Homo sapiens: one gene and its partners. The protein of the gene in region 2 binds, or shares a complex with, the protein of the main gene of each other region. Each region holds a gene or a part of one and is shown on either strand. Other genes may lie near its edges.

What was found.
Region 1: ANKS4B (region 2) and CDHR2 share a complex: the UniProt entries of both Homo sapiens proteins name them as parts of the IMAC/intermicrovillar adhesion complex.
Region 3: ANKS4B (region 2) and USH1C share a complex: the UniProt entries of both Homo sapiens proteins name them as parts of the IMAC/intermicrovillar adhesion complex.

The regions. Positions count from the first base shown.
Region 1 is NC_000005.10:176,573,218-176,580,651, reverse strand, and holds part of CDHR2 (cadherin-related family member 2 precursor), read right to left. Parts: intron 6,570-7,434; coding exon 6,480-6,569; intron 5,569-6,479; coding exon 5,443-5,568; intron 5,373-5,442; coding exon 5,226-5,372; intron 5,147-5,225; coding exon 5,071-5,146; intron 4,929-5,070; coding exon 4,813-4,928; intron 4,701-4,812; coding exon 4,467-4,700; intron 3,254-4,466; coding exon 3,098-3,253; intron 3,016-3,097; coding exon 2,854-3,015; intron 2,619-2,853; coding exon 2,557-2,618; intron 2,288-2,556; coding exon 2,044-2,287; intron 1-2,043. UniProt on the Homo sapiens protein: Intermicrovillar adhesion molecule that forms, via its extracellular domain, calcium-dependent heterophilic complexes with CDHR5 on adjacent microvilli. Thereby, controls the packing of microvilli at the apical membrane of epithelial cells.
Region 2 is NC_000016.10:21,228,696-21,236,982, forward strand, and holds the start of ANKS4B (ankyrin repeat and SAM domain-containing protein 4B), read left to right. Parts: upstream 1-5,003; 5' UTR 5,004-5,042; coding exon 5,043-5,206; intron 5,207-8,287. UniProt on the Homo sapiens protein: As part of the intermicrovillar adhesion complex/IMAC plays a role in epithelial brush border differentiation, controlling microvilli organization and length. Plays a role in assembly of the complex.
Region 3 is NC_000011.10:17,520,228-17,527,661, reverse strand, and holds part of USH1C (harmonin), read left to right. Parts: intron 1-330; coding exon 331-439; intron 440-621; coding exon 622-646; intron 647-851; coding exon 852-909; intron 910-1,220; coding exon 1,221-1,315; intron 1,316-3,126; coding exon 3,127-3,211; intron 3,212-4,183; coding exon 4,184-4,243; intron 4,244-4,394; coding exon 4,395-4,451; intron 4,452-4,735; coding exon 4,736-4,878; intron 4,879-6,250; coding exon 6,251-6,316; intron 6,317-6,667; coding exon 6,668-6,792; intron 6,793-7,434. UniProt on the Homo sapiens protein: Anchoring/scaffolding protein that is a part of the functional network formed by USH1C, USH1G, CDH23 and MYO7A that mediates mechanotransduction in cochlear hair cells. Required for normal development and maintenance of cochlear hair cell bundles.

The DNA of each region.
Region 1 (7,434 bases), on a different chromosome or scaffold from region 2:
CCACCTGCCTCAGCTTCCCAAAGTGCTGGGATTACATACAGGCGTGAGCCACCACGTCTGGCCCTTCTTTTGTTTTGTTTTGTTTTCTTTTTTTTCTTTCTTTCTTTCTTTTTTTTTTTTTTTGAGGTGGAGTCTCACTCTGTTGCCCAGAGTGGAGTGCAGTGCCATGATCTCAGCTCACTGCAGCTTCCAATTCCTGGATTCAAGTGATTCTCCTGCCTCAGCCTCCCAAGTAGCTGGGATTACAGGCATGCACCACCACACCCAGCTAATTTTTGTAATTTTAGTAGAGATGGGGTTTCACTATGTTGGCCAGGCTGGTTTCGAACTCCTGATCTCAAGTGATCCACCCACCTCGGCCTCCCAAAGTGCTGAGATTACAGGCAGGAGCCACCATGCCCGGCCGTCAGCGCTATATGTTTTAAATAGCTGATTCTTCACTCACTTTGTATGTCTGTGAGTGCGTGTGTGAGTGTGTGTGAGTGCGTGTGTGAGTGTGTGTGTGAGTGCGTGTGTGAGTGCGTGCGTGAGTGTGTGTGTGTGTTCCTGTCCTGCCAGGGCCCTGAAGGCATGCTTGGTTTGTCTTTGGGGTGAACCAGTGTGGATAACACAGCGGGTTCCTCTGTGCCGCCAGGCCTTTGCAGGTTCCGTTCCCTCACCCCGATGCCTCCCACACCTTCCCTGCCTGACTCCAGGCCAGGTTGGCGCTTCCTCTGGGCCTCAACATAGCACAGGTGACACCGCTGGGTGACTGTCTGACGCCCTCTTCCTAACTGGGAGCCGCCTGGGGGGCAGGAATGGTGGTGGACTCATCTCTGAGGACTCAGGGCCCAGCCAAAGACTGGGTAAGTGCTCAGCAAACGTGGCCTTGAATCCAGAGTGGGACCACTCCGACTCAACCAATTCTTTCCTTCCTCCCAGCCAGTCTCCACCTTCAGCTCCTCCATTTCATTCTGCTGGGACCTTGTTTATTACATGCATCCTTTGAAAGCAGCTGGAGATGTTTATTTTTTCCAAAAGCCTCATCCTGTCTGCTCATCCTTTGGTGCCCTGAACTCAGGCCAGTTAATTCATCAAGTGCTCCCTGGGGCTCATGCTGGGCACCACGGTTACAGCAGCCGACCAGAAATGCTCCTGCCCCAAGGAGCTCACAGACCAGGGGAGAAGTGCCAAGCAGGAAGGAGGAAAGGCCAAGGCTTCAGGGCCAGAGAGGTCTGGGCTGCAGCCCCAGCGCCATCATTTACTGGCTGTGTAACCACAGAAAATCACTTAACCTTTCTGAGCCTGTTGTCTCCTGAGAAATGGGAACTATTAGACCGCCTGCTTCCAAAGCTGGTCAAGAGATCAGGGATAGGAACATGCTCTGGAAACTACACAGTCCTGGAAAGACGGGAGGGCTCTGTGGCCACCAGATTGTCACTCTGAGGACCTGGTTTCTCACTTCTCACAAGATGCCTCAGGGGCGAAGCTTCCGAACTCCTCAGGACGAGGGAGGAAGCTACTCCCCGGTGTTTCTCTGGAGTCACTAGTGGGTTTTTATCTCATGAACTCTGTGAACCTGGCCACTGATCTCATTTCCTTTTTTGCTTTGGCCACCATGAAGCTCAGATCAGAATTTGCAGCTCACTCCAAGCAATTCTGTAGCACTGGGTTCTAATTTTACCTTGTGCCCTTTAACAAATGCCACCTTTATTTTCTCTTTTTTCTTATTTCTTTCATATTTTTATCTTACTATTTATCTAAGCCACCTCAAGTCCTTTTTGGAGTGGGGCAGGTGGGTAAATAAAAAAGAAGTGTATGTTTTTGAGGGATTTCTCTGGCAGGCCCAGTGCTGAGCTCCTCACACAAGTCATTAAATTATTCCCCAATGACCCTGAGAGTAAGGCTATAATTTTCTTCATTTCCTGGGAGGAAACAGAGACTCTGAGTGACTGTCTCAGAGCCACACAGCGGAGCCCCGACTTTACCCAGGGCCAGCATGCCCACAGAGCAGGCTTGGTCCCCTCCCCCAGCCTTACCCACCAGGTCCAGGCAGGCTCACACCTGGATGGTCACGGAGACATTGCCCTCCTCCTCCTGGACGAAGATGTTGTAGGAGCCGCTAACCACGGGTGCATTGTCGTTGATGTCCAGCAGGTGGATCTGCAGTGTGGTGGAGGAGGACAGGTTCCCGCCGTCTGTGGCCTGCAGCGTCAGGTAGTACACGGCCTGGCTCTCCCGGTCCAGCAGCTCACCGTTCCTCACCGTCACCGTCCCTGAGACGGGATCCACTTGGAAGAGGTCTGCCCTGCTCAGAGGGGCCAGGTTCAGCAAATAGAGACACAGGATGCCCATTTCAGTGTGAATTTCAGATATACAACAACAAATATTTCAGCATATCCCATGCAGTATATGCAACATATTCATTATTTCAAAAAGTCATTCCTTGTTTATCTGAAATTGAAATGTAACTGAGTGCCTTCGGTCTTCCCCAGCTATTCTATCTCTGCAGAGAGGCAGAGAGGTGGGCCTGGGCCCTGCTCACCCACCTGCCTACGGCCCACCCTGAGCCCTTACCCATTTCCTGGGAGCAGGCTGTAGGTAATTTGGCCCCACGCGCCCGTGTCTGGGTCCGTGGCCTGTGAGGCAGAGACATGGCAGGGTGCTGTGTGGAGGCGATGCACGCACCGCCACCCATGCAGCTCGTGGGGACAGAGCTGTCGTGCTTCCTCACACAAAGGGAGAATCCCCAGCACACTCAGATTCACTCATGGCCACCCCCATCTCACACATACACACACACACACTCTCACACTCACACATGCACGCCCGCTTGCTGGGACCCCACAGCCCCACTGTGTCCACATCACTCACGTGGATGCTGTCGGTGACCACAGAGCCGGTGGCGCTGTGCTCTGGCACCGTGAGGACGTACAAGCTCTGGGGAAACGTGGGCCTGTGGTCATTAATGTCTCTAAGGTGGATGGTCACCATGGCGACGGAGAAGTTCTGGCTGACGGAGTCTGTGGCCACAACCTGGGGGCAGGGGAGGAGGCAGCAGCTGTGGGGCCCAAGTGCCCCTCGGCTTCTGCCCCTGGCACCCCGGAGCAGCCCTCACCTGCACCGCCATCGCCGTCTGCCTCTCGTAGTCCACCAGCGCGGATACTCTCACCAGCACCTGAACGGAGGCTGAGCCCACTGCCCGCTCCGGGGAGACGCTGAAGGCTTCTGCATCGGGGCCCCCCAGCGACAACAGGAAGGTGCCATTGCTGCCCTGTAAAGGTGGGCTGTCTAGCAGGGACCTGTCCCCCTGCTCTGCCCACCTGCATCTTCCCCCAGTCCCCAGGCTTCTATCTCTGGATGCCCCGCCCGATGAGGTCCCATGGAAGGGGGCTCTCAAAAGACTGCGAGAGAGGGTGCAGGAGGCTGGGCTGGTCACCAGTCCCTGCAAATGCAGGCTCTGTAGAAGACAGCTCCCTAGGCACTGTGGGTCCCAGACCTGGGCTGGAGCCTGGACACACACCCCTCACTCCTGTCAGCTGTCCCTCCCACCCACCCTTCACATCCCCCACCCCCAGCCCCCACAGCAACACCAAACACCACTCACACCCTACGTCACCCCACTGGCCAGTGCCACCCTTCTGGCCAACCTAACCCCACCCGACACTGTCCTCCACGCAACATTTCCAACCCCTCAGTATCACCTAACACCATACACCCTCCAGAGTTACTCATCCTCCAGCGCCACCGTGTTACCCACCTCTCACTGCAGCCTCCACTTAAGAGTGCCTCCCATGGCTGGGCGCGGTGGCTCACGCCTGCAATCCCAGCACTTTGGGAGGCCAAGGTAGGTGGATCACTTGAGGTCAGGAGTTCAAGACCAACCTGGCCAACATGGTGAAACTCCATCTCTACTAAAAACACAAAAATTAGCTGGGCGAGGTGGTGCACACCTGTAATCACAGCTACTTGGGAGGCTGAGGCAGGAGAATCCCTTCCACCTGGGAGGCAGAGGTTGCAGTGGGCCAAGATTGGGCCATTGCACTCCAGCCTGGGTGACAGAGCGAAATTCCATCTCAAAAAAAAAAAAAAAGAGCACCCTCCCACCTCACACCCTCAGACCACTTGTCCCAACACTGCTCAGCCTCCCCCAGTTCCCAGGACTACCCAAATCATGGCCGCCCAATGCCAGGAGACCTCGCCAGCCACCCATCACCACGGACAATGATGTTCTACTCAGCATCATCTGACGTTCTACGTCAGCCTCCACTCAGCATGGCCTTCTATTCAGCCCCACACGGATCGCCCAGAGGATGATACTGCTTACCAACACAGGCTTCCAGAGAGCACCCAGCACCCCCATTCTCCGCCATCACACCCTGCACCACCAGCACCGCCACCCAGCACCACATGACACCGTCACTCGATCCAGGCTCCCACTGGCCTCCCCCAGCCACCCCCGCCCACACCCACGCCACCACGCCTGCCTTGTCCGGGTCGTAGACCACCATGGTGAGGTCATCGATGGGGATGCGGGGGGAGGCATGCTCGTCCACGTAGCCAGTGAAGTTCACTTGGGCCTCTTCGGGGGTGAAGGTGCAGGCTGGGAGGCTGCAGTTGTAAAACTCAGGTTTGTGGTCATTGACGTCCATCACTCTCACTGTCACCCAGATGCTCACCTTGGCCTCCTGCCCGTAGATGTTGAGGTGTGTCTCGGTGGCCTGAGGCACAGAGCAGAGGGCAGAGGGCAGAGAGCCAGTGCTCAGAGAGAGAGATCAAAGGCCAGAGGTTAGAGAGCAGGGTTCTGACAGGGGTGGTGGGGCCTTTGCTCACCGTGACCTGCAGCTGCACCTCCTCATCCGCCTCCAGCAGCTGCTCACGGTCCAGGGAGCCGTTGACCCTGATCACCCCATCTGCCCCGATGTCAAACCAGCCGGGCCGCGTGGAGTCTGGCAAGGAGAAAGGCGGAACAGCTGGAACAGCTGCTCCAGTGGCTCTGACGGAGCCCCAGGCCCATTGCCTCCAGGGACTCTGACGGAGACCCCACCCTGGCCCCGGCCCAGCCCTGGCCTGGGGACACCCCGTTCTCACAGGAGATGCTGTAGATCACAGGGTCATTGATGCCTTTGTCGCCATCCACAGCCTCCACCGTCAGCACCGAGGTTCCCTGGAATGGGGCCTGGTCAGTGCTCCTCAAACTTCCCCGCCTCCCGCCTCCACCCACACCCCACAGGTCCCCCGTGCACCTTGGCTGCATCCTCAGCCACAGAGGCCGAGTAAAACTCCCTGACAAACTGGGGGTCAAGGTCAGGCTGGTCCACCACGGAGATGGACAGGAAGACAGGCAGGGAGCACTGGATGGTGAAGGTGTTGTGGTACATGCCGCCCAAGTCCTGCGGGGAGATGGCCACCCGTGAGCCAGCGCCGTGGGTCCTAGGCCCGCCTGCCGGCACCCCCACTCACACAGGCCTTCAGCTCCAGCTGGTAGAAAGCGCTCTTGTTGTTGTAGCTGAGGCTGCCATTGAGGACTATGGAGCCATTGGCCAGGATCCGGAAGAGATGCTCGCTGTCCCCAGTGCTAGGGATGACCTGGGGCAGAGCAGACTTGGGTCAGGCTCCCTAGGGACAGCCCTGCACCGAGGACCCCACTCTGAGCAACGCAGGGAAGGTCCCAGCTCTGCCACTGACCAGTCACGCCACTGGCACCAGGTCATATGACCTCTCTGAGCCTCAGTTTCCAGCTCCAGGAAATGGGGCTGGTGACAACCCTCAGTGGGTTGAAAGGAGGATCCAATAAGATGCAGTCGGCCCTCCATCTCTGTGGCTTCCACATCCACAGATTTGACCAGCACAGATCAAAACTGTAGCTAGGCTCACTCACAATGGTTGCGTCTGTACTGAAGGTGTACAAACTTTTTCCCTTGCCATGATTCCCTAAACAATATAGCATAACATGCTATAGTTACATAGTATTTGCATTGCATTGGTATTGGAGGTAACCTAGAGGTGATTTAAAGCACACAGGAGGATGTGTCTAGGTTACATGCAAATACTACCCCGTTGCATGTCAGGGACTTGAGCAGCCATGGATTTTGGTGTCCTCAGGGATCCTGGAGCCAAGTCCCCACGGATACCAAGGGGCGACTATACAGTATGTGCCAGGCACGTGGTTGGTGCTCGGTAAATGGCGCTATCAACAGCAAGTCTGTTTCCATGAGAAATGGGTTTACACACCCCTTATTGTCTGTGGAATTTGGACAAGACCTGGGAGCAGGCGGGCAGGAAGAAGGGTCTGGTCTGCAGCAGGCACCCTCTTTAGGTAAGCGGGCAAGGCGAGGTTTCCGGGGAGGGGGGCTGGTGGCCAGAGGACGGTTTGGGGACCAGGGCTGGGCCAAGGCAGGACCAATGTCCCCACCCCAACGTTCAGGCCCTGTGGGTTGTCTGTGGAGATGCTGCCCCCTGGCGGTCACAAAGGCGGTCAGGGCCCCCTTCACACTCACCTTCTCTATGGAGTACACGACCATGCCTGCAGACCCCATGTCTTTATCCACGGCCAGCACGGAGAACACCACACTGCCCACGGGCAGGGTCTGCAGGGAGGGACTCGTCACCTATGAGCTCAAATCCAGCTCCTCCTCTCCCTTGTCCGTCACTGCCCCCCTGAGCTTCAGTGTCCTCAGCTGTGCACTCATGGGGACAGGGTTCCCCTGTCCTTCCCACCAGGGCTGCGGGTGGAAGGCACCTGGGGGTGCGGGGCGGCAGAGAGGATCTCCCTCCTCCCCTCCCCACACAGCCTCTCCACCACCTAAGCTGGCTTCTGATTGTCGGAGCCCCTCAGAACCAGGATGAGGGATCATTCTAGAGCCCAGCCTCACTGTGCCACTGCGCACTCAGACATCCCATGTGCTCTCTACAGCCTATAGCCATGGGTTTCAAACAGCGCCCTACAGAGCTGGAGGCTTCTTTGGGGAGTACTCTGCTCCTGGGCCCCTGTACACACCAACTCTACCTCCTTTTTTTTTTCCTGAGATGGAGTTTCACTCTTTCGCCCAGGCTGGAGTGAAGGGGCACGATCTCGGCTCACTGTAACCTCTGCCCCCTGGGTTTAAGCGATTCTCCTGCCTCAGCCTCCCCAGTAGGTGGGATTATAGGCGCCCACCACCATGCCTAGCTAATTTTTTTTATATATATTTTTAATAGAGACAGGGTTTCACCGTGTTGGCCAGGCTGGTGTCGAACTCCTGACCTCAGGTGATCCACCCGCCTCAGCCTCCCAAAGTGCTAGGATTATAGGTGTGAGCCACCGTGCCCAGCCACGACCTATACTTCCTAATGGTGGCCACAGAGATCTTTGAAAATCATGAATCAGACCACATAACTCTTCTCCTTCAAATCCCCCAAGAGTCCCCCCATTCTGCCCAGATCACAGTCCAGACTCCTTCGAGCCTGGGCTGC
Region 2 (8,287 bases):
TCTAAGTTGAGACATACTAGTAGTGCAGGAGTATGGGGAGATATGAGGAGCATGGCGAGGCTCCAACAGGAAGGTTGATGAGAGCTTTGACTTGGGGTCACTGCCACTCAGGTCCGAGCCTCAAAGTCTCTCCAGTGTGTGTCTGGCAAATATTCTTCTCTGGCCTTCCAAGAGTCCAGCTGTATGCTGATGGAACACGCTCAAATACTAATTTCCACAAGATCAGTACAGTCAAGAAAATCCACAACTGCCCCCACAATTACCATGACTCCTCACAAGGAATTAATGTCTACATTATATGCAAATTCGTGTTAGCTCTTTTTATTAATTTCTGCCCTTACCATCTCCCACCAATTTTGTTTCCTTTGGGCTTTGAGGAATTCAAAAATGATTACTGGGCTAAAACTTCCTCTGTCTGTTCCCTAAGCCACAATCACACTACTTCTAGTTTGTAAAAACATGCTTTATGGGTTGCAAGAAATTTTATTTCTTCATCTTTACTAAAGTTAGTTGATGCTGATGATAATGATGATATGATCACTAGCAACATCCCCCAGTTTTATCCACAAGGATATGGAGACTCAAATAGATGGAGTAACTTTTCCTGGATTATATGAACGCTAGGTCTTCAACCCTCCTTCCCAACCTCACCTTGAAGGGATAGGATAAGGAGGATCTTCAAGTTCAGAAAAATGTTTTAAATCCTTATCTCTGCCCCCACTTCCCCACCCCCCGCTGCCCCTGCCACCCCATTCTTCTCCCAAGGAGGAAATTTTCCCAAGGGCGTGCCAGAGGATGCCAGGATATTTACCATTTAAGAAAGTTTGGTTATTTCGCCATTTCACAGGAGACTTTAAGTTCTAGTCCTAAGGACTGCTGGAACTGAGAAATTCTTTCTCTTTCTTGTCTTCTATCTCCAATCCTTCTTCCCCATCTCTATAATTATTCTGTCCTCTTTACCCTTTGCCTCCATCCTGTGAAACTTAATCACGCAAATTGCATCATTCTTGTTATACCCAACTAAATCAGGGTTGAGAGGCTGGGTGGTGGAGTTGGGGGAGAAAGCACTCCGAGTACAAAAAATAAATAAATAAATAAAAATTGCTCCAAGAACGTAATTCTCAGCAAGACTGACTGCTGGAACTGCCTGCTGTAACCCGGGAGCAGTTTTATTTACAGCTGCTGAGATAACTTGCTGCAACTCTAGGACAAATTTTGCCCACTAATCAGAGCTTGCCAGCTCCCCAAACCCTTACTAGTGCCAATGAACTTTCTTGAAGAGCAATATGTAACATTTCTCTTGTTAATAAAACCTCTAAACTTCTCTTTTCTTCTTCAGACATACTGAAGACCACCTGGTCTATGTGTGTATCCCAAATTGCAAGTCTTTTTCCAAATAAAACATTAAATTTAGAGATTCAGCTCTAAATTTTTATTTTGACTTTGACAATCCTCATCCTAATTTGGCTTATGACCATCCTAGTGGCCACTATTCTTCTCTTTCTCTTCCTCTTCCTCATCCTTATCTTCTGAAAGCAGACCCTTTGGCTGGAGTCTTAGGATTCTACTACAAATAATACATCTTTGAGAAGTTCTCTATCGGTTATATGTATTTTTATTTTTTATTTTTTTTGCACTCTGTCACCCAGGCTGGAGTGCAGTGGTGTGATCTTGGCTCACTGCAACCTCAGCCTCCCAGGCTCAATCAATTCTCCTGCCTCAGCCTCATGAGTAGCTGGGCTTACAGGTGTGCACCACCATGCCCAGATAATTTTTGTATTTTAGTAGAGATGGGGTTTTGCCATGTTGGCCAAGTGGGTCTTCAACTCCCGACCTCAAGTGATTCACCCACCTTTGCCTCCCAAAGTGCTAGGATTATAGGCGTGAGCCACCTCGCCTGACCTGTTTTTAAATTTCAAAGTGCATTAATGAATGCAGTTGTATCTAAATTAAAGTGGCTCATGCAAAACTTGATGAAGAACCTTACCATTTTCTCACAGTATTCATAATCATGTTTGGATATGTCACTCTCTCTGGGCTAAAAACAATGTTTAAAAAAAGCTAAATAATGCTGCCCTCCAGGCTGCTTCTACTGCTCTTCACCTAGAAGCCAGAAAAAGGAACAAACAGTGACCTTTGGAGCTCATTATTATTGTGAAGAAACTGTAGATGAAAGCTTTGTACTTTTTCTGAGTGGGTAAATAATTTATCTTGGAATAAAAACTTAGACAAAAAGAGATAAGAGGAATATACAGTTACAGGCTTCAAAAATAGATATTTCTCACATCAGTTTAGTGGACAATTATCTAAATATATTAAAGATTGTGTAACAATATGGGGATATATTTATGATGGATTAAGGAGTGGAAAAGATGTAATGTAAAATTATATGTATTTGATGAAAACAATGTAAAAAATACACCACAGGAGAACATATGCATAGTTGATGAGTTATGTAAGGATGGCGGTTTCTAATTTAGTTGCAGTGTCTTCAGAGAACACGGTTTGCATGAACCCTGTTATTTGTTATTTGTCGAGAACTGCACTGCTTCTATTCAGTGGTCAGGTTTTATAAATATTCTGTGTGCTTAGAAAAAACATGCATTTACTATTGGGCACAGGGTCCTTTCTCCATGTGACTGTTAGATCAAGCTTGTTAATTGTGTTCAAATCTGTTTTTCTTCTTTTTTTTTTTTTTTGAGATGGAGTCTCACTCTGTCACCAGGCTGGAGTGCAATGGTGCGATCTCAGCTCACTGCAACCTCCGCCTCCCGGGTTTAGGCGACTCTCCTGCCTCAGCCTCCCGAGTAGCTGGGACTACAGGCACATGCCACCATGCCCAGCTAATTTTTGTATTTTTAGTAGAGACGTGGTTTCACCATATTGGCCAGGATGGTCTCAATCTCTTGACCTCGTGATCTGCACCCCCTCAGCCTCTCAAAGTGCTAGGATTACAGGTGTGAGCCACTGTGCCCGGCCCAAATATTTTATAGCTATACCAATCTTTAGTCTGATATAGAACATTATGATGATGTCTGAAATCTTCCCTTATGATTGTGGTTTTGTTTTTTTTTTTCTGTTTAATTTTTGCTTTCCCTTTTTTGCAGCTGTGTTATTTAATTTATACAAGTTTAAAACGATCATAGTTTCTTGATTAATTGTTCCTTTCATTATCATGTATTATCTCTCTTTATGCCTAGTAAATTTTTTTGGCTTAAGCTATATTTTTCCTTGCTACCAATACGGGTGCTCTTCAACTTACAATGCAAAACCACCATAAGTTGATATAATAACTCAGTTGTGAGCTGAGAAGCATACTAAATACCTGTCATTTTTGTGCCATCATAAAGTTGAAAAATTAGGTCAAACTCTCATAAGTTGCAGACCATCTATGTGGGTACACCAATGTTTTGTTAGTATTTGCTTGCTATAACTTTTCCATTTTTTGCTTTCAATCTTTCTGCAATTTTATATTTTAGATATGTCTATTATAAACAAGACATGGCTGAGTCTTCCACATCATAAATTTAGTCCATTTTCTTTTGTTTTTATTACAGATCTGGAAATTTTTTGGTCTTATATTGTACTCCTTATAGTCATTTTTCTATACTTTTTCTCCTTCCCTTGAGTTATTGATAATATGTTTAAGTTATTGATTTGAGATCTTTTTTCTTTCTCATATATGCATAAAAAACTACAAATTTTGCCCTAAGCTTTTCTTTAACTGCATCCTATAAATCTTGATATGTGGTATTTTCATTTTCATTCTGTTCCAAATATGTCTGATATAGGACTTGTATCCAGAGTATATAAATAATTCTTATAATTTATTAATAAGACAACCACTTAAAAATTGGGCAAAAAGATTTGAATAGAAGATGTAAGAATGGCTAATGGGCACATGAAAAGATGCTCAATATCTTAGTCATTAGGAAATTGAAAATTAAAGCCATAATAAGACCACTTCATATCCACTAGGATGACCATAAACAAAAAGATAGGCAATAATAAGGCTGGCAAGGTTGTGGAGAAATTGAAACCCTCATACGTTATTGGTGGAAATGTGAAGTAGTACAGCCACTTTGGAAAACAGTCTGGCAACTTCTGAAATTTAAATGTAAATTGCCATGCAACCCAGCAGTTTCACTCCTTGATATATACGCAAGACACATGAAAATATGTGTCCACACAGAGACTTGTACATCAGTGCTCATAGCAGCATTATTCATCATTACTGAAAAATGGAAACAACCCAAATATTCATCATATTCATGAAACATTGAATGGATGAAGAACATGTGGTATGTTAGCACAGTGGAATATTATTCAGCAGTGAAAAGAAAGAAACCATTACATGCTACACATGACAAACCTCAAAAAAGTATGTGAATTGAAACAAGCTATACACTAAAGACTATATATTGTAGGATTCCATTTGTCTGAAATGCCCGTAAAAAACAAATCTATAGAGACAGAAAGCAGACTGTGGTTTCCTGAGGTTGGGAGTGGAAATGGGATTGACAGCAAATGGCATGAGGGATCTTTAAGGGCTGATGGAAACTGGATTATGATAATGGGCATGCAACTCTATAAATGTCCTAAAAATCATTGAATTGTATGCATGAAATGGGTAAATTTAATGATGTTATACCTCAATAAAGCTGTTCTTTTTGGAAAAAACAGCTAGTGAACTAGAGTAGCTCTGCATTTTATTAAGAAATTATTTCTTACATCCTGTGCCTAGATGGCCAATATTACACTCAAGAAACTAATGGACATAGAAAAATTGAATGTACCTCCAAACACTCAAGATGAATACAGCAGTCTTCAATAGTCAACGTCATGGCCATTCCAGAGAGAAAAGGTCCAAGTTCAGTGCCTCGAACCTTGTTGCCTTCCGTGAAAGGAAGCAGTTGAAATGAGCTTTGCCCCTGGTGACACTCTTCCTTGTCACTAATTAACCAGCTCTATAGGAAGGTTGCTCCGCCAACACCTTGCTCTGCCTGGAGAGACATCTGGCCAAGTTCTGGTGAGCAGGAAAAATGTCTACTCGTTACCACCAAGCTGCTAGTGATAGTTACCTGGAACTTCTAAAAGAGGCTACCAAGCGAGATCTAAATCTTTCGGATGAAGACGGCATGACTCCTACTCTCTTGGCAGCCTACCATGGGAACTTGGAAGCCCTAGAGATAATCTGCAGTAGAGGGTAAGTTCAACCCGATGGTTTCTGTTGGAAACAGTGTTCATGGTAGGTTTTTGCAGACAGCAGCAAGAGGCAGGGACGTCAATACAAATACTTTATCCTCTTTCTAGATTGTCTAAATGATTGGATTTTTAGAGAAAGAGAGAAAACTATGCCTAGAGATGCTCTCTTTTCTCACTGAGGACTGGCACTATAGGAGTGGCTCATCCCTTAGCCACAATCAGAGGAGAGACCCTGAACTACGGCATTATCTGCATGGGGAAGAGGGAAGATATTTTAATTCTATGCCTTTAAAAATGCTTTTCATGAAATTTAAATAGTTTTCTCTTTTCAAAGAGGCCATTGTTTTACTTGGTTTTAAGTTGCCAACCTTGGTTGGAACAAATGACATGGTTTTAGTTTTTTTTTTATCTATGCCATCAAAATCTCACAGTCTTTTATTAACTTTCAATCCCAGTGCAAGCTCATGATTTTTTTATTTTTTATTTTTGACACAGGGTCTTGCTCTTTTGAATGGAGTTGCTGGCTCTACAAGGACTCTTTAGCCTATCTTAACTCTATCACTTCTTTGGCTAGTGGATAGATACACACACACACACACACACACACACACACACACACACCCCATCTCTTTGCCCAGATTTTAATGGAGGAGTAAGCTAGTTCCTCTGCTTGTTCTGCCTGTTATCAGAGGGCTAGGTTGTGTTGGCAACCGTAACCCAAGAGGGGTAAAGAAAGAGAAAAGGACAAGGTAAATAAAGGAGCCAAGTGAATCCAATTGAATACCCATTTATTCAGTATTTGTTATGTGCCAGCCACTTATCTCTTAAGATAAGAGATATTTTGCTAGCCACTGGGCACACTGTGATCAACAAGACAGCCACAGTCCCTGTCATAGTGAGCAGATTTGAGAGGGGAAGACAAGACATCTATGATATTTGTGTGTGTGTGTGTGTGCATGTTTGCTCTGAGACAGGGTCTCACTCTGTCACTCAGGCTGGAGTGCAGTGTCAAGATCATAGCTGACTGCAGCCTTGAGCCCCAGGCTCAAGTGGTCCTCCCATCTGAGCCTCCCGAGTAGCTGGGACAAGAGGTGTGCACCACCATGCCCAGCAATTTTTGTACTTTTTGTAGTGATGGGGTTTTGCCATGTTGCCCAGGATGGTCTTCAACTTATGAGCTCAAGCGATCTGACAGCCTCGGTCTCCCAAAGTGCTGGGATTACAGCTGTGAGCCACTGTGCCTGGCTCATCTATGATATTTGTTACAAAAAGGGAAATAGAGGGCACTAAATAGGCATCTACCTCAATCTCAGGGGTGAGGGAAGGCTTCCCTAAGGGGAAAGCATTTAAGCTGGGATTAGGAAAATGAGAACAAGTTGGCTAGACGAAAGAGTGTTTTCCCTAAGATGGAAAACTGCTCTAGTTCTGAGAACTAGAGAAGCTGAGTATGGCTGGATGTGGTTCAAGTAGGAGTGGGGTCAGGACAAGTATAAGAGATAAGACCAGATCACAAAGAGCCTTGTCAACTCTGGTAAGGACTTTATCCTAAGGGCCCAGGAAGCCATGTCTTGGGTAGGGAAGCTGCCAGAGTAGATTTATGTTTACAAAACTCACTCAGGTAGATGGATAACAGTCGGAGAGAATGTTTGGGGACTGTTTTAGTGGTCGAGATGAGTTGGACTAGGGTAGTGACATTGGGAATGGGAAGATATGGTTGGATTTGAGTGGCAGTTTGGATGTAGAATCAATAATGATTGACTGGATGTGGGCAGATAAAGGAAAAGGAGGGTTAAGGTCCCAGGTTTTGGATGTTGACACCCTTTATTAAAATAGGGGACATTTAGGAAGTGTCAGAAGAACCCAGGATTGGGAGAGTTCCTGAGTTGAAGATTGAATGAGAAAGTGAGTGAAGCAGATCTTCCCCATCTCTCTTGTCTGAATAAGACTTTCTTTTCTCAGACACATCGATCCCCATCAGCCAGCCTTCTCCAGTCATCTCATCTCTTCTCCTACTCAGCCTAGGGTTCCCCAGCTTTCTCCATCTACTGAAAGTCTACCTCATTCCACAAACTGCAAGATGTCAGTTACTTTAAAATCAAAGTATTAGCCTATTCTTGCATTGCTATAAGGAAATGCCTGGGCCTAGGTAATTTATAAAGAAAAGAGGTTTCACTGGCTCATAGTTCTACGGGCTGTACAGGAAGTATAGTAGCTTCTGCTTTTGGGGAGCCTTCAGGAAGCTTCCAATCATGGCAGAAGGAAAAGGCATCTCACATGGCAGAAGCAAGAGCAAGAGAGCAAGGGGGGAGGTGCTAGAAACCAGATCTAATGAGAGCTCACTATCATGAGGACAGTACCAAGGGGAATGGTGCTAAACCATTCATGAGAAATTCGCCCCCACGATCCAGTCACCTCCCACCAGTCCCTACCTCCAACATTGCGGATTACAATTTGATTTGAGGTTTGTTCCCCACCAAATCTCACAGATCCAAACTGTATCAACCAGTGAGTTTGTCCTCCTAGAAGAGGGTTTGGGGGTTCTGGGGTTCTTCTCAGCAGAGAGCTCTTGTTCCATTTGAGGACATTTTGAATAGTAATGCTTAGGTGTTCTCTCTCTTTCTCTCCTTTGAAAGCCTGAAATATTCTCTTACAATAACTCTTCTGCTGGTCTTTATTTATTTTTTATTTTTACTAGAGACAGGGCCTCGCTTTGTTGCCCAGGCTGGTCTCGAACTCCTGAGCTCAAATAATCCTCCTGCCTCAGCCTCCCAAAGTGTTGAGATTACAGGTGTGAGCCACAGCACTCAGCCTGGTTCTGCTAGTCTTTAATTACAAAAGTAACATGAGCTGAACCCAGAAAATTAAACCATACAGACGCACACAAAACATGAAGAAAAAATGTCCTATAATGCCATGCTACTAAGATGTATATAGTTCTCTCTATATATACTATAGTGCATACAAATACATTTTAATATTCTTCTATAAATTTCAGGGACTTTGTAGGACTCTAGTCAACAAATACATTTCTTAGCCAACCCCTCTTTTGGACACATAGTTTGTTTTCCCTAGTTTGAATAGG
Region 3 (7,434 bases), on a different chromosome or scaffold from region 2:
CCCAGTGGAGTGAAAGGGGCACTAGAGTGAGGGTGCAGAGAGTTCTGAGATCTTCTCCCAGCTCTGCTGCACACCCGCTGTGCCCCTCACCCCTGTCTTGGTTTCTCCATCTGTAAAATGGGGCGACAAGACTGCTTGGACATGCCACCTGAACCTGGGATCCCCCGGGCTGATGGAGGGTGGGTTGGTTGAGATCAAGGCTTATTCCAGGGGGTGGCACAGCCACCCTTCCCTTTTCCGGAGAGCAGTCCGGGAGCATCTGGTGGTGAGTCTGCCCCACTGCCTGATGCTCCCTCCACCTGGTGCTCCCTGCCTCTCTCTGTGGTCAAGGTAGGGGACGAGATCGTCCGGATCAATGGATATTCCATCTCCTCCTGTACCCATGAGGAGGTCATCAACCTCATTCGAACCAAGAAAACTGTGTCCATCAAAGTGAGACGTGAGTGAGGCCAGAGCAGGGCAGTACTCCATGACGGTGGGAGGGAGGGAGGGCGGGGGAGCAGGGCAGTACTCCATGACGGTGGGAGGGAGGGAGGGCGGGGGAGCAGGTCAGTACTCCATGACGGTGGGAGGGAGGGAGGGCGGGGGAGCTGTCCTAACCCCTGTGCCTTTCTCCCGCAGACATCGGCCTGATCCCCGTGAAAAGGTGAGAGGCCCCTCCTCTGCAGGCCAACTCTTCCCTGTGGGCCCAGGATCCTGGTACAGCCCTGGGGTCCGGCTCCCACCATGCCAGCCCTGCTTCTGGGCCAGTGGAGGCTGGAGGCTCTAGACATGGTGGATCTGGATGTGGGGCCTGGTTCCTCAAACGTCTCTCGCTAACCACCCTCCCATCTATTTTCCCTTCCCATCAGCTCTCCTGATGAGCCCCTCACTTGGCAGTATGTGGATCAGTTTGTGTCGGAATCTGGGGTAAGGGCCAGACCTCCTGTGATGGGGTTTGGGTGGGGTCATCTTCAAGGAGGGGTGGCCGGTCCTGAAGGGAGGGCTTGCTCTAGAGATGCACCCTCAGGGGCTTCACACAGGCTCCCAGGGCAGCCAGCACACCGCTGTGGGGCAGCAGCCCTCGGCCAGGCCCAGCTGGTGCAGACACATCCCCAGGGACGGAATGATGATCTGGCTGGCGTGAGTTCAGCAGTGCTCGCCCTGCAGATCCCACAAGCTCAAGAGGCCGCTTGCACGCATGTGGACACTCCGTGATTCTGCTTCTATCTCTCTTTCAGGGCGTGCGAGGCAGCCTGGGCTCCCCTGGAAATCGGGAAAACAAGGAGAAGAAGGTCTTCATCAGCCTGGTAGGCTCCCGAGGCCTTGGCTGCAGGTGGGTGGCAGGCATGCCCTGGGGTCATTCGTGGCCAGTGCACCCCAGCAGGCCCCTATTGCCCTCCCCTTCCTCACTGCCACTTCCGAGGAAACCTTGCCCACCAGGGGTGTGACTGTCCATGGGTGATGATACTTTTTTTGTTAGATACAGGGTCTGACTCTGTTGCCCAGGCTGGAGTGCAGTGGCATGATCATAGCTCACTGTAGCCTCAACCTCCCCAGCTCAAGCAATCCTCCCACCTCAGCCTCCTGAGTAGCTGGATCTACAGGAACACACTGCCATACCCAGCTAACTTTTAATTTTTTTGTAGAGATGGAGTTTTGTTATGTTGCCCAGGCTGGTCTCAAACTCCTGGGCTCAAGTGATCCTCCCACCTCAGCCTCCCAAAGCCCTGGGATTAGAGGCATGAAGCACCGCACCCAGCCTTGGTGTTGACACTTCTTGGTGCCTGATTTCCCCTCTGAACTTCATGACAGGCCTTTAGGGCCAGAGGGTCATCTCTAACAGAGCCCAATTTACAGATGAGGAAATTGAGGCCCAGAGGCAGAACAGTGTTACCTTGTGGGCCCTTGAGTCACTGCAAAAGGAGCCTGTTTGGCTGGTCATCTCTGTCACAGCTCTCTTGTCACTTATTAACTTGTTGGCTTCCTTAAGAGGCAGACAGGGAATTCCGAACAGACACTGGGCCACACGGGGCTTAAGCATGCAGGTGCCACCGTTACTCAGATCCCAGTTCCAGCCCTGCTTTCCCACTTAAGAGCTCTGGAACCTTGGGCCAGTTACTTAACCACTTTGAGCCTCAGTTTCTCCCTCTATAAATGGGCGATAATAATTCCCACATCACAGGGTGGTTGTGGAGAAAGTAAAGTGCCAAACTTAGTACCTGCTAAATAGTAAGCAGTTGGTAAATATTAGCTATTATTATTTAAGTTATCCCTGTTCTTTCCTTTCATTCACATTTATTCAATGTTTTGTGCCAAGCACAAGTGATAAAAAGTCCCACCTTTCTGGGAGACAACAGCCTAATCTAGAAGCCAACCAAGTAAATAGTTATAATATAGGGTGATAGGGACTCGAACGGGACTACATTCTGCGTCCAGGATGGCAAATAGGTGCCATCTCTAGTCAATGAGTAGCAGCTCCCTGGAGTGCTGCTTTGAAAAGCATTCTAAAGCTGTATCCAGGATTGTGGGAAAGAGTGCTGTGATCAATGAGTGACTTCTGCCACCAATCTAGGAAGGAATACTAACAGTACATGTACCATCCTTGCCGTAAATGTCATAGGAGCACTGAGAACAGAGCGGCTAGTTTAGTCTTGGGATAGAATAAGGGATCTGAGCCAGGCATGGTGGTGCACACCTGTAGTCGCAGCTAGGCTGAGGTGGGAAGATTGCTTGATCCCAGGAGTTGGAGGTTGCAGAGAGCTATGATCACACCACTGCACTCCAACCTGGGTGACAGAGCAAGACCCTGTCTCTAAAAAATAAATTTAAAAAAATAAGAGGATCTGGTAAAAACCTTATAGAAGGGATAGCATTTGAGTCTTAATGGATGGACAGGAAAGTGCTAGAAAGAAAGAAGAAACAGCATATGAGGTATATTAGGTGAGAGGTTGGGTAGGAAGAATTACAAGGATTTTTCTGTGGCTGTTGCCCAGGGTAGCAGTAGAAATCAGGCTGGAGAGGGACACAGAGGCTGAAGAGGTAGGCAGTCAAGGGCCTTCAGTCCTCAGCTCATGAGTGACCTGTATCCTGAGCACTGGACATGGGTTACCTGAATCCCGAGCACACATTTCCCACCTCCCGCAGCATTTCCAGCGGCCCCATCCAGAAGCCTGGCATCTTTATCAGCCATGTGAAACCTGGCTCCCTGTCTGCTGAGGTGGGATTGGAGGTGAGTGACGCTGGGCCGGCCCCAGTGGGGGCCCACTGGAAATTGGGTCAGACTGTGATCCCGCGGTGACAGGGGCAGGTGCCTTTCCACATGGCCCTCTTTCAGTGGACACTGAGGGAGTAGGAGCCCTACCCACCCTGCAGAGAAGGCTTCACAGACTGGGGATGTTTGACCCTTCTGCAGCCTTCCCCAGCTCTGATAGTTGTTGGTCACGAGCTTGGGAATGTCGTAATGGTAATCAAAGAGCGGACCTTCAGTGTCCACTTGCATCAGACATTGTTCCATGCCCTTTACACTTCACAAGAATGCTGAGGGTTAAGTACCACCATTATCCCCACTTTACATATGAGGAAACTGAGACCCAGAGAAAGTATATGATTTTTCCAAAATCGTGTACCTCATATGGTAGGGCTGGGATTCAAACCTAGGTGGTCCAATCCCAAAGCAGGAACCCTTAACCTCTTCTTTGGACAAGTTACTTCATGTCTGTTTGCTTACCTGTAAGATGGGGATAATACAGGCTTTCTTCCAAGGTTGTTGTGTGGGTTAAAGTAATTAATATGTATACTAGAGCTGTGCCAAGCACATTGTAAGTGATCAGTGAATGTTAGCTATTCTGTTATGACGATTCAACACAGCCTGTGCTAAATGAGAAGCTCAAAGGTTCCCGCATCTGCAAACTGTGATTTTTAAAGCAAATGTCATCAAATTTAGCCAAAGAAATGAACATGTAATGGTATAATATTTGATAGTTGATAAGATAGTTATGAAGTAGGGGAGTGCCAGGGTCAGCTTTAAGCCCTCCCAGAGCTCCACCAGAGCTTTCCAACTGCTCCATTCATCAGGAGGAGCTGAGGTACTGCCACTTGAAGATCCAGCATCTGACCCAGAGCCCCTGGGGGAGCCTGTCCTGCAGATGAGCGAGTGTACAGATAGCGCAAACACACTAATCTTTCTCCATTTCCCCACCAGATAGGGGACCAGATTGTCGAAGTCAATGGCGTCGACTTCTCTAACCTGGATCACAAGGAGGTGAGATGTGGGGGTCTTCACCTGTTGGCCCTTGTCATCTCCACACCCCACTTCTCATCCCCACCACCCTGGAGCCTGGGGCCTTCTGTGCTCTCTGCCTGGACTGCTGTGGTCTGTCAGGCCTCGGCCCACTGTCCTTCTGTCCCCACAGGCTGTAAATGTGCTGAAGAGTAGCCGCAGCCTGACCATCTCCATTGTAGCTGCAGCTGTAAGTCCAGAATGAGCTGGTGGGAGCCCCTTGACCTTCATCCCCAGCCCCTCTGACCTTTGATCTCTGCCACACACTCCCAGGGTGGCTGGTCTCCTTCCCTGAAGCTCTGACAGAGCAGAGCGAGAGGACTTCTGCCCAGCAAGAAGTTTGGGTCAGGGATTGCGGGAGCCGCAGTGCCTGATGGTGCTGAGAAGACCACCTGCATCTCGGCCCCCAGGGGTGTGTCAGGGGATCCCCAGGTTCCCCGGGGGCTGAGCAAGGGGCCTCTTTTCTCCCATGAGGGCCGGGAGCTGTTCATGACAGACCGGGAGCGGCTGGCAGAGGCGCGGCAGCGTGAGCTGCAGCGGCAGGAGCTTCTCATGCAGAAGCGGCTGGCGATGGAGTCCAACAAGATCCTCCAGGAGCAGCAGGAGATGGAGCGGCAGTGAGTGCAGCCAGCCCTGGATGCCCTGTCCCGCCTCCCACCCCACCACACGACCCCACCTAGCTTGCTTCCTGCCCGCTGTGTCCCCAGCCAACTTCCTCCTCCTCCCTGGAGGCCAGTCCTCAGACCAGATGAGTTTGGTGGTAGGTCAGCGTATCCATCCTTGGCCTCAGACCACCTGGCTCCTTCCTCCTTGCTGAGCAGAGCCCCCTGTCTTCCAACATTCCAAGAATATGGAAAATAAGCATCCTACTAGCAGTAGGCTCTAGCTAGCTAGGATTAGCTACCAGCTAACATTTGTCAAGTACCTCCATAAGGCTGGTGTTGTATTAGGGCCTTGTTTATGTTTCTTAATTCCCACAATAGCCCTGGGAGGTAGAGAGTATTAACCCCATTTTAGAGGTGTGGAGACTGACACTCAGAGAGGTGAAGCCACTTGTGTCTAACGTCACACGTGGCCAAGCTGGGATCACCCCCAGGCAATCTGGCAAGTCCCCACAGGGCTGCCCTGCCTATAGTGATGAAGCTCACCCTTGTCCAGGAGGATTGAAATGATGGCCTAAGAGAATAAATGGGGTGAGCAATTCATAAATCAAAAACTACTGTCAAGATCCAAATCCAAATACCTTTTAGGCATTTAAAAGTATTTCATGGCTGGACGCAGTGACTCACGCCTGTTATCCCAGCACTTTGGAGGTCGAGGCCGGCAGATCATCTGAGGTCAGGAGTTCGAGACCAGCCTGGCCAGCATGGTGAAACTGTGTCTCTACTAAAAATACAAAAAAAAATTAGCTGGGCATAGTGGCATGCGACTGTAATCCCAGCTTCTCGGGAGGCTGAGACATGAGAATCACTTGAACCTGGGAGGCAGAGGTTGCAGTGAGCTGATATCGCACCACTGAACTCCTGGGTGCAAAGTGAGACTTTGTCTCAATCAATCAATCAATTAATGTATTTTGAAAAGGAAAGAGGAAAGGCTGTCCCCATCTCCCCCAACACAGAGTTAGCTGGGAGTATTCCACCTGGCTAGGAGCCCCTGCTTTGCTCCTGGGGTCAGTCCAGGCCCCGCCTGTCATCAGTCACCTTACCTAAGTGTTTGGAGGAGGGTGCATGGAGTGTGGCCTTCACATGGATCTGCTTCCCTCCTCCCACAGCCCAGCATCTCTGCTCAGCCATGCCAGACAAAACCACGCAAGAGCACAGCGTCCAGACTTTGTTAGATAACGTCCCCCAAAACCAAAGCTGGTCCAGGCCTCCTAGGAAGGGAGCCTGGAGAAAAATCCAACTTTTCTCCAAATCAAGAATTCACAGTAAGGAAGAGTTCATTTCTCTTGCATAGGGCCAAACATGCCAATCTGCATTTGTGTTTCAGAAGGAGAAAAGAAATTGCCCAGAAGGCAGCAGAGGAAAATGAGAGATACCGGAAGGAGATGGAACAGTGAGTACCTCGGCTCCACGCGTGTCTGTGCATGAACATCAGTGTGCTCAGGGGAGTGTGGCCAACCAGAGGCTGCCTCCAGAACCAGTTTACCTGGTTCTCTCATCCCCTGGTGGGTCCTCCTTTATTTGTAGTAAAGCCTGTCATATTATAGTAACTGAAACATAGTCTCGTATAATTGCCAAGGTGGGGTTCACACTCAATTTAGAATACAAGCTCGGGGACTTTGCTTGATTCATCATGACTAGAACCATGAGGCTTCTCCCCAGGCTGGCTGGGGCTCTCCGATATGCAGGAGATGGGCCTATGGGGGTTCTGACTCCAGTAACAGGCATGGGGGTCTCATTTTAGGATTGTAGAGGAGGAAGAGAAGTTTAAGAAGCAATGGGAAGAAGACTGGGGCTCAAAGGAACAGCTACTCTTGCCTAAAACCATCACTGCTGAGGTACACCCAGTACCCCTTCGCAAGCCAAAGTGTAAGTTTCATGAGCCGAGGGGAGAGGCTAAGGGAACTAGTCAGAAATGCTGGCCCTCCCTCCCCTCACCACCACCTCCTAGATGGATAGCCCTTGGTGCTCTGGGCTGTGGTTCCTTCATGGAGGGGCAGCTGTGGGTCAGAGACCATCTGCCCCAGCATCGAGGTAGGAGGGATCTGTCTGCTCCCCTTGTTCACGGGCCAGCTCCACATACCCAGCTCCCAGGTCCCCCACAACACTGACATGGGCAGGCTGTCAGGCTGCTGAAGAGGGAATAAGGGCCATAGTGAAAGTGGATTAGCTCATGGGATTACCGTCCTAATGTTTTGGGTACCATGTCCTCCTCCTACTTGGTTCTGAACAGGGGCTGGGGTGAAGCCAGCAGCAGAAAAGAGGGGAAGGACCTCACATCAGAGAAGGGCTCTGGTGGTCCAAGGTTGATTCATAACTGTGGGAGGAGCTTACTAAGTGTCTCCAGCCCCTATATCCCTGTATGTGGACCAAGGATGGAGGCAGGAACAGGACAAGGAGGCCTCTCCCAGACACCCAGCTATGGGCTGTGGCTGTGCTGTCCTGGGGCCTCAGCTCATACTCTCCTTACCATCTCCTCTCTTCATCCGTCCCACATCCTCACCTCCATTT